2 separate regions of the Homo sapiens genome follow, and region 2 is linked to region 1. The links come from fine-mapping of genetic effects on gene expression. A gene starts in region 1. The other region holds a variant in brackets. All regions are shown on one strand. Distances are from middle to middle.

Region 1 (5,335 bases):
GGAGGACACTTCAGTCCCTCAAAGGCTCCTCCCCAGGTTCCCTGGTTCAGGGCCGGGAGTCGAAGTGGCCCCGTGGAGCAAGGCCTTCTAGGGCTTTAGCTCTGACAGCATTCTAGGGCCTAGGCGCCCCCAGGTGGGGTGGCTCCCCCTCAGGTCTAACTCCAGCCCCTGCCAGAAGCAGACCCGCCTCTGCAGAGAGGAAAGCCCTTGGACTTCAGCTTCCTTTGATTCGCGGTGTCTTTGGGGGATTGGGGGGTCCCTGGTTGATTCCCGCTGCACCGTGGGGTCTGCCCTTAAGGTCATATGAAGAGCAGGGCCCGGATGCTCTGAGGACTTTTTCAATACCCTCCACAGGTCAGGGAGGCTGCCCACTTGGTGAGCTCAACTGTTTGGCCATATATCTCTGGGCCCACCACACAAACTGAGAGGTCTCGAATGCCACCAGCACCCGCCAGCCCATCTCTGGCACAGCGGGGCCAGTGCCGTGAACCAGTCTCATTTTCCAACGTGTTTTCCAAGCACTGACACGGCTGAGGCCCTGCTGGGACGCATGGCCAACTTTCCTCCATGACCAGGACCCCCCAGCTTCCCCGCCACATCCACAGCTTCCCCCCAACATCCCTCCTCCAGGTCAATGGGTCCTTCAGCCACATTTTTGGCTCCTGACCCACCCAGGCCTCCCTCAGAGAACCTGGGGTCTCTGGGTTGGAATGTCCCTTAGAGATGTGCCCCCTCCCTCCCCCATGGTAGGACTCAACCCTCCACATCCCCGCCCACCCACCTCCCTGGGCTTGTAGACCTTCTAGGACCGGGAGCTCCCTTCCTCTCCTGGCAGCCAGCTGGTGTTCAGACAGTGATTTCTGGGAGGAGTGCTTTCTTGGACTGAGCTTGAGTCCACATTTCCAGAAGCTTCTACCTCTGGGCCCCTTCTTTCCCCCTTCCTGAGAGGCCCAGCAGCCTCTCTGTTCCCTCCCCAGCCTCCAGCTTTTCCGGAGGAAGATGCCTGGGAGGTGCTATGATTCTGGGGGCGGGTGGTGGGTGGCAGGTGGTGGGTGGTGGGTGGTGGGTGGTGGGGTGGCGTGGGCAGGGAAGCTGCAGCCTGCTGCTGGGTCTTCAGCGACCATCTCCAGGGGCTGAGGGCTGGCCAACAGGTTCTCCATGAGGGGGATGGCCTCCATAACCTCTCAAGATGATCTTCGCCTCTCAAGGCCCTGCCAGTTCCTCAGGGTCCCATAGACTGAACTGCTGAGGTTGGGGAGGCCTGTTGAGCACACTGGCTCCGTGGAGCTGGGTGGAGGAGGGAGATTTTCTTCCAGAGTACACAGGAGCTGGTTTCTTCCCGGTCCTCAGGAGCAGAGAATATGGGGAGGGTTGGGGGAGGCTGCCACACTGCCGTGGTTTCTTCCGCCAAATTCCCCAGTCCTAGGAAAGATCCACAGAAAAACCCACAAGAATTTGAATGTCTGAGCTGGGGCTGTGATTGAGATGAAATTTTCTAAAAAGAAAGAAAGAAAAACAAAAACAAAAAAGAGGGAAAAAAACGCTTAAAAAAAAATCCCAAAGCCTTTGACAGCCCTCAGCTACCAGAAGGGCCTGAGGCAGCAGCCACGTGGAAGGGTAGAGAGCAACCTTGAGGCACTTCGCTGGGCCTGTGTCGGGGCCTCCCAGGCTGAGGTCCCTTCCTGTGACCCCCGGACTCCTGCCCGCTCCCTCCTCCCAGGACGGAGTGAAGTCCCCTCCTGTCACTTGGATGACTGCAGTTGCCTCCCAGCAGGTCCCTGGGTCTCCCTGACTATAGACTTGCCCCCTGATCCCACCCTCCAGGAGATGGCAGGGTAGGGCACAGAGGAGGGCACAGTGGCAGCTGCCTGCTGCTGTCTCCTGGCTACTGGGCACAAGCCACCCTCCAACTCCTTCCTGCCTTGCCCAATCAGCAGGTCCCTGGGTAAGGGGCATTCAGTGAACTGGGGGCTTTGCAGGTCTGGGGGAGGAGCGACTGACATATTTCATTGCAGACGCATTGAGTTTGAGGGTCCTGAGGGATGTAGAAAAATTTGTTAAGTAGACAGGATAGGAAGGAGCCACAGGTAGCCCCAGGAGCCGTGAGGGGAGCAGGGCCCAGCATGTATTACAATAGTGAGCATTTACGTGGTTCTTCGCATGCGCCGGGCACTGTTCTAGGGATTCCACAGGAATTATTACCGCCTGCCATCCTCATTAGCAACCCAGTGGGTAAGGTGCTCTCATTAGCTCCATTAGGTGAGGGCAAAGAGGCACAGAGAGGTTAGGTAACTGGTTCAAAGGCACACAGCTGGTGAGTGACAAGAAATTTCCTTCTAACTACAGCGTGAGCATGGTGAAGAGAAGACGGAGCCCCGCGCTGGGAGAGGAACGCTTCAGTCCGAGTTCCATTCTGCACCCAAGGCTCCCCTTGGTCCTCCTGGGAACCAGGGTGCCCCTTAGTGGTGGTGGCCCAGGAGAACCCGACCAAGGCAGGAGCGCCCCCTCCTGGAAGAGCCTCGCTTCAACGCATCATCATTCCCGGCCGGCAGCAGGGGCGACGCCAGCAAGGCCTGCGACTCAGAGCCAGCTTGGCCCGTTCGCCCCGCCCCTTCCCGGTGTCCGCCCCGCCCCTTTCCCGGTGTCCGCCCCGCCTCCTTCCCGGTGTCCGCCCCGCCCCCTTCCCTGTGTCCGCCCCGCCCCCTTCCCTGTGTCCGCCCTGCCCGCTTCACTGTGGTCCTGCCTCTGGGTGGTGCCGGGGCGGGGGGTGGGAGCCCGGGGCCCGCGCAGGCGGAGATGTCGCCCAATGGGAAGGGTCGGTCGGGAAGGGGGTGGGCGCAGGCGGGTGGGCGGGAAGAACGCTGGAGGTTGATTGGCGGTCTTGCCGGCCAGTGAAGCCAGGGCATGGGCGGGGCGCGGCTCGGAGCGCGAAACATGGCGGGGCAGGACGCTGGCTGCGGCCGTGGCGGCGACGACTACTCAGAGGACGAGGGCGACAGCAGCGTGTCCAGGGCGGCTGTGGAGGTGTTCGGGAAGCTGAAGGTGCTGTTGGCCCAGAAAGCCACTCCAGGGCGGGGGACCGGGGAGGGCCCCGCCCGAGGCCCGGGAGGGCTTGCTGCGGAAGTCCGCGGCGCCACGCGGCCACCGTCGCCGGTTCCGGCTGCGCCCTGTTCCCTTGCAGCAGGGGGTGCTTGTGGATCATTCATCTTTGCCCTTTGGTGTGCCCCAGGCCTTCGTTCTTGCTGTCTCCACGGCCCGTGCCTGGTAGTTGGGGCCAGCACCGCCTGTGGAACTGCAGTACCCGCGCTGGGCGCTCGGAGCAAGTGCAGACACAGAGGACCCAGGCCTGGCCTTAGGGATCTTGCGGGGTCTGGGGGGACAGATGGGCAGAGCCTCGTGCCACTCTGTCAAGTCAGCGAGACTAGGGCTTGGTGTCAGTTGGTGTCAGATGCCAGGGGTGATAGCCTCCAGAAGCCCTCTACAGCCCCACAGGACAGAGCCCTCACTGCAGCAGTGAGGAAAGCTGGCCCACGAGGTTAGGGAGCTGTCCCAGGTCCCCTCGGCCCGCTCGCTCCTCCCCCCAGACACTCCCCCATCCTGTCCGCGACTGGCTCAGTGGTCCCTCTCCCTTTCCCTCTCCCCTTTCCCTCAGTCCCGAAACCTAGGACTCTCTCTTAAGTCTTAGTCTCAGGCGTTGCTCCTAGGTCCTGCTGCCACAAGAGCCCAGAGTGGGAGTACTTGAAAGAGGTGGGGTCTGCATGCCGCGGGAGATGTGGGGTTAAGAATGGGGGGACTTGAACTCTTGGCAAGATGGCAGGACGCGGGTAAAGGAAAGGGTCCTGGGAGCTTGCAGATGTACACTGAGGACTGGGCGCGGCGGCCCACGCCTGTAATCCCACCACTTTGGGAGGCTGAGGTGGGCAGATACCTGAGGTCAGGAGTTTGACACCAGCCTGGCCAACATGGTGAAACTCCGTCTCTATTAAAAATACAAAAATTGTCCGGGCGTGGTGGCGCATGCCTGTAATCCCCCAGCTACCCTGGGAGCTGAGGCAGGAGAATTGCTGGAACCCAGGAGGTGGAGGCTGCAGTGAGCCGAGATCATGCCACTGCACTCCATCCAGGCTGGGCGACAGAGTGAGACTCCGTCTCAAAAATAAATAAATAAATAAAATGAAATGATGTACACTGGGACTTTCAGTGAATGTTGCTTTCCTTTTCCTTGCTTAGGACCTAAACTGCCCCTTCCTCGAGGGTCTGTATATCACAGAGCCAAAGACAATTCAGGAACTGCTGTGCAGCCCCTCAGAGTACCGCTTGGAGATCCTAGAGTGGATGTGTACCCGGTAATGCATCAGTTTCTTCCTCTTCCCACCTGGGGTGTGCATGGGCGCCAGCCAGCCCCACCTGGGGAAGATGGGGTTTGTGGTTACTGTGAGTAGCTGTCTTCCCAGAGGGCTCCACCCCCTAGCCTGGACCCTCGTGAGAACAGCTGTGTAGGTAAGGAGTACTGGTGACAGGCATGATCAAACTTGGGGCAAAGTGGCCCCTGGCGGTGCTGGGCTAGTCCAGCCACCCCTTTGCTGCAGTGCTGAACTTGCCCTCAGCGTTTGCCTTGCCTTATGAGTTTGGAGGTTCAGGACTGGCAGGCACCTGAGAAATGCTCCATTCCAGTCCTTTCCTTCTCAGACCCGGAAGCCAAGGGTCAGGCTGGAGGCATGAACAGTCTCTGGTCTCCCAGTGGAGGAGTGACAGGCAGGGCCAGGGCGTGGGCTCCTGGCTGGGTCTCAGCTGGCCAAGTGGTCCTCATGCAGTGTCACCTCTTGTCAGCTTCTGTGCCGTGACCCGTTTCCCAGTCCTCTGGTGCCTTTGGGCCAGGGTGTAGCATGGTGTGTGCCTGGCACCCTATGAAGCCCATGGTGACAGGGTGACTTCCTGAGTGATGGTGGAGGAAATGATCCAGAGTGTCCCATTCCCAGGGCAGACATCCTTCCCCTGGTGACGTAGTCCCTGAGCTGAGGGTCTGTCTCACTGCCTCACAGCTGTGAGTGGAGAAGGCTTTCCCCGCCTCCCACAGAGCACAGGCTCCTGTGGGATTGGGTGTGTGCCCAGGCCATGCTCAGGAACAGCTGTAGTCTGTTGGTACAGGAGCCTCTCGTGAGTCCAGGCCCGGGCCTCCCCCTCCTCAGCCTGCGGCCTGCCTACCCTTGCTGCTTGAGGAAGGGGCCTGGGCGGGAGCCTGGCAGTAGAGCAGTGGGGAGCCAACCTGCATCCAGCCGGTCTGGCCCGCCAGGACCAGAGACATCAGCAGGACGCCCAGCTGGATACAGGCCCC
Region 2 (5,359 bases), 23 kb before region 1:
ACTGTCAAGTGTGAACTCATTACAAACCCCTCCTCTGGGGACTTGGCGCTGTCACTGGAAGGGACACGCTATAGCTTTGTTTGAGTGACTCTGGAATGTTGCTAAAGACAGGAAACTCATTCTTGCCTTGGAAACACCCCCCTTCCTTTCCCAGACTCCCCATCTATGCGTTGGTAGGGTTAATGCCCACTGCCGTACGGGTCCTTGGGGCTTGAAGGTGGGCCAGGGAGGCCAGGGCTGCCACCCACAGCTGGCCAGCTTGCCATGGGAGCCCTCTCTGCTCCCTGGCTCGCAACCTGCTCCCACCGCCCAGCCCTGGTGGCTTGGAGGCAGCCCTGCATCTTCCTTTCAATATACCCACACGGGCTTGCCCTCAAAGGCTCACCATGCTGGCCCACAGTGGCCATACATGGGCATGCTCCGCACCAAGACATCCATGCTCATACACCAGCTCTCCTGGGGTGCGGCTGGCACCGGCGGCTGGGTGTCACCAGGAGGTGCTCACCCGCACCCCTGGGCGCTGGTCCCCGGGAGCCTTTCTGGCACGGGGGCAGGGGGGCTGAGCATCTCCAGCTTGTCTCAGTTCCAATTAGTTGCTATAGGGCAGAGAGCTGGCAGGCCAGGGAGGGGCGAGGGCCCAGAAACAGGACCCCCTGAGGATGGGACCTGAGCAGTCTGGCAGCCAGGACAGCAGGAGAGAGGCCTGCCCACCAAGACAGACCACTGGAGACTGATGTACCCTGTGCCCTGCAGATCCCTGGGCCCCCTGCTCTGCTCAGCAGGCGCTCAGGCACCCAGCCCCGCCCATGGAGCAGTGAGGGGGCGCTCCCCTCCGTGGGCCTTCCAGGGCACTCTCTCGCTCCCTCTCCTGGGTCCCTTGGCAGGCCCCTCTGGGACCCCAAGCCAGGTCCGCCCTGGGGAGCATGGCACAGTTGCCTGATTTTCTCTCCTTCCCCTCCACACCCATTCTGAGTCCCAGTCCAAGGGGGTCCTGGAAACAGACAGGGCTGAGCCACCCAGGCACCCCCAGTCAGGGCCCTTGCAGCCAGGGCTCCCAGGACCCAGACTTCTCACAGAGGATGTAGAGGCAGAGCATTAACCTGGGGGTGAGCGAGCGAGGAACATCTGGGCAGGGTGCCTGGGGTGTGCCTGGGAAACTAAGTCTTTCAGCCCATGCCAAGGACTGGCCTCAGGCAGTGCAGCGGAGGACTGCTCCTGGGTGCTGAGCTCGGTGGGCGCTGGGCGGTCCTCCCCGATCCGACCCAACCCGGGCCAGGCGCCAAGCCCTGGAGCAAGGAGGCGCCTGGGCAGAGCGAGGCTGAGGGAGTGGAGCATGCGCCTGGGACTTGCAATGATGAAACAGGGCCATTGGCAAAGCTGGGGTACCAGTCACCCAGCCACGCTCTAGGGTGGTAGCCAAGAAGACGGACCCCGAGCGGGAGGCAGAGAGACAAGAGGTGGATGAAGCAGAGCAAGGTCAGAAGGGAGAGGGAGAGGAAGGGGTGAGGGAAAGGTGCCTGGAGGGCGGCGAGACGAGGCAGAAGCCTGACAGGGACCAAGGGGGCCGCAGGGTGGCGATGAAGGGGCGTGGATCAGCAGCCTACAGAGAGCACCGGGGAAATCTGTGGACACCCTCGCGGCACTGGGGACAGCAGGACCAGGGCTTGGGACAGCGGAGGCAGCAGAGCCAGGGGCATCTCTGGGTTGCTGAGGAGGCAGCTTGAAGCCAGCCCTACCTGGAGAGGGGAGGCGCCAGGCGCAGGCTGACTAGTTGGCGGGCTGGGGTGGTGGGCCGTCCGCACGTCTATCTGTCCGGTGTGTCCGGCGGACCGAAAGCAGCTACTCACTCCTGGGCAGTTTGTGGAGAGAGGGAGACAGAGGCGGCGGGCGGGAGGCTAAAGGCTGGGCAGGCGGGCCGACGGGGAGGGGACAGCGGGGAGAGGGCGGGGAGGGAGGAAAGGAGGGAGGGGGCTGGTGGGGCGGAGAGGGCGGGCGAGCAGGAGGGGGCAGGCTTCCCGGCCCCCCTGGCAGCTTCAAAGGGAGCAATTTTCTTGTAGACGGCTGGACTAGCTGAGCCCCCGCCCCCTCGCCCCCACCACCTCCCCCCCCCTCCCCCGCCTGGGGCAGACAGCAAAGGAACGGACACACTCGCACTCACTCAAACAAGGACCCAGAGAGTCAAACTTTCCACTGCCCAGATGGGGACACTGAGGTGCTGGCTGGCATCTCGCCAGGCAGAGGAAAGAGAGATGGAAGAAAGACGAGGGGGAGGCGGCCTTGGGCTGCTAGGCCCATGAGTGGCCCCTGGAATTTGGTCCTGAGCCTGCCAGGAACCTGCTTGGGCCTAAGCAAGGAGGTGGTTTCTCCAGGATCAGAGAGGTAGCTGTTGTGGATTTCTGGAAGGACTTCATGTAGGCTCCTGGCGCCCTGTGCCCTCCCTTCCACT[C/T]CAGACTTTCTTCCCTTAAAAAGAGGGCCCGATCCGGCTGGTGGTGGCAGGACGGGGCAGGGGGCTCCCCAGCTTGCCTGCCCTGAACTGATTCAGAGACGAAGGATCCAGCGAGTCAGTCTTCTTGCTCAATCCCTGCAGGTCCCCTCGGACATGAGAACCACTCTGTGGGTGGCCACTTCCTCTGGGCTCAGCCCTGTGCTGGTCACTTACGGGGGCTAACCGGGTTACCCCACCAAGACTCAGCCGCTTCCTGAGGGCCCAAATGAGTCCAGTTCCTCCAGTGGCTAGAGCCCAGGTCCTTAGTACGACACTGCCCCCCTGTCCCGTAGTGTCCCCTTCTTCCCTCAGCAAGAGCAGCTCCTGAGACACAGGGGTAAGAGTTTAGATGGAGTGAGAAACAGATCTGCAATAGAACTGGGGGCCAAGAGTGCGGAAGACCAAAAGAGAAAATTGCATATTGAGAGAAAAAGCTCGAAGGGGCAGAGAGGGAGAGAGGGGTGGCTAGAGAGAGGCGGCATCCAATGGAGAGAGGACAACGTCGAGGGCTGAGGGTCTTCAACCCCTGGCAGTGCCATCACTCAACCGGGGGGTGGGGTCTGGGAGGTCCCAGGCCAGGGAGGATGCTCCCAGGGGAGCTCTACCTGGGGGCATGGCAGGGCACAGACCCCCTTCCTGTTCACCAGCGGCAGCCCAGGGCCTGGCTAGGACCTGGGACGCATGGCACCTTGACCAAACTGTGGTACCTGCCTGCAAGAAGCTTCTAGACTGGGCCAGGGAGAAGAGAGACGTGGGAAACCAGGGGCCAGGCTGGTAACCCTGGTTCTCTCTTGATTTCATGGTTGGAATGAGGAGATTGGAGACCACATATGCCCTTTCCAGACAAAGGAGATGGCTTGTCTTTCGGCAGGTTTGTGTGTTTTACCTTTTGCCCAGCCTCAGCGTCCGACTCTTGGCAGCCTGGTCTCATCTCTGTCCCACCCTCTTTCCCTCCCCCACTGCCAACTCATTCGTGGAGAAATATGTCGGTAGAGAGCGGGACAGGCAGCGAAGCCTGACTAGCAGTCTGGGTGGAGAGAGAAGCATTTGGAAACATTCCGCTCAGTGACAGCAGCCAGTCGCAAAAGGCCGCAGAGCCTCTGGTTCCATTCATTTGAAATGTCCACACTAGGCTCATCTGTGGGGACAGAAAGCGGATTTGTGGGCAGTGGGTGCTAGAGGGGTGGTACCTAAAGGTATGGGTTTTCTTTTTGAGGTGATGAAAATGTTCTACAATCGACTGAGTGATGGTTGCACAGTTCTGTGAATAGACCATATAAAAGCCCTTGCCTTGTACGTGCTCAATGCGCAAATCGTGTGGTAAGCACAGCCACTCTCAGTAAAGCCGTTTCAGAAAAAAGGAGAAACCCACTCAAGGCATGCCTGCTGCCCGAGGTGCTGGTACCCAGTACCTTCCTGCACTGCTTGGGGACTGAGAACCCAGGAGCTGTCACTCAGGGCCTCAGCCTCCAGGAGTCCCAGTGGGGGTGAAACAGCTCTGAATACCGTGGGGGCGCAGGGCCATGCACAGTGCCAGAGGCTCGGGAGGGCTACCTGGAGGAGGTGACCTGGAGCAGACCAGTAGGGAAGAGGGAAGTTGCCGGTGGAAGGAAGAGCACACGTGCGGGGGGGTGTGGGGAGACACAGGGGAGCCAGGCGGCGCTGCAGTCCGGCCCTGCACCGACCTCACCCTCAGGTCTCAGCCAGGCATGTTCCTGGATGGGGGCTTGGAAGTGGCGATGAGGCGACACCCTGCTTGGGGGAGACACATTATGCATGCACCTTGCAGCTCTTACCTGAAGTTGGGGGCTGCTTCTGGGGGCAATACTCATATAAATACGGTCCTTGTACCTGGAAGGTTTTTGTATCTGTGGTTTGCAGTCTGCAATAAGCCATAACTGCACGCCCGGCCCGGGGCCCACCGAGTCACTCGGCCTGGCTAGGGCCCACTGAGTCACTCGGCCTGGCCCTCTAATTTGGGGGCCACTCCCAGACCAGACAGGCAGTACCTCAGTCCTAGGGCCTCCCCCTTCTGCTCCCCCTCCCACTCCCCCCTCCTCAGGCCTGGGCTCTCTCTGCAGCGCAGAAGGTACTTTGATCCCAGCTGAAGTGCTCTAGGAACAGTGCTTCCTTGCTAGCGAGCAGAGCTGGCGGGCGGGCAGCCTTCTGCCCTTCTGGCCTCTCAGGGCTGGGAGGAGGCAGGGGGAAGCAGGGGGAAGGCAGGCACGGGGGGCGCAAGGCAGGAAGGAAGAGCAGGCATTTCCTGAGGCCCTCAGGGATCCTGGGGAGGAGGCGGACACACAGCTGTCTTAGCTCCCCAGGAACCCGCGGCAGACAGGGAGCAGGAGGTGGGGGAAGCAGAACCCGGCCCCTTCCAGCACGGCCTGTATGTGACCCTGGGATGCCACTGCACAGGCCCCCTAGGCCCTAGCTGGGATGCTTCCCCCAAAAGGCTGTAGAGGGCCAGAAGGTCCTGCTGGCACCAGCCTTGCCTTGCATCCCAGCCCGGGAGACCCCTTCTCCTGCCGGATGGAGCCGAGAGCTCAGCTCTCTCCACCTGACAAGGAGCCCAACCCCCTCAGCTGCGTGGGGAGGGCAGCCCTGGGCAGCCTGCTCAGGCTTCCCTGCAGGGAAAGCTGTCCTGCCCTGGCAGTTGCCCCTGCACAGGGCCCCAGGCCACACTGTGGTCTCCCTGCTCTGAGCCTAACTCTGGTCTAGGCCTCATCAGGCAGCTGCCACCCCAGCCTGCCTGGGACAGCGCCCAGGACGGCTGCTGGAAGGTAGCAGGTGGGGCGGCAGCCATGGGACGGAAGGATGGGACAAGGACATGTCTGAGGGAGGGAGAGGGCCACGGAAGAAGGGGGCTGGGAGGAG

Alleles and levels. Alleles are on the strand shown, and positions count from the first base shown. SD is a standard deviation of normalised expression in the study named.
With allele C in place of T in region 2, the expression in cerebral cortex of the gene that starts at base 2,916 in region 1 is higher (small effect, 0.35 SD a copy in GTEx).

The links. PIP is the estimated chance that this variant, and not a neighbour inherited with it, causes the effect.
Region 2: its variant is the best candidate, but not a certain one, in a credible set for the expression of HAUS7 in cerebral cortex (GTEx, PIP 0.61).

Annotation. Positions count from the first base shown.
Region 1 is chrX:153,468,157-153,473,491 of GRCh38, reverse strand. It overlaps HAUS7 (HAUS augmin like complex subunit 7), which reads left to right and starts at 2,916. Exons shown (of 10, transcript NM_001385482.1): 1 at 2,916-3,042; 2 at 4,231-4,346. The coding sequence starts at 2,935. RefSeq lists enhancers at 2,387-2,681, 3,195-3,294, 3,445-3,624 and a silencer at 2,555-2,864.
Region 2 is chrX:153,491,491-153,496,849 of GRCh38, reverse strand. BGN (biglycan) reads right to left here and starts at 1,870. Exons shown (of 8, transcript NM_001711.6): 1 at 1,737-1,870. It also overlaps a transcript of HAUS7 not described here. RefSeq lists an enhancer at 4,928-5,359. The variant C/T (reference allele first, on the strand shown) is at 2,447.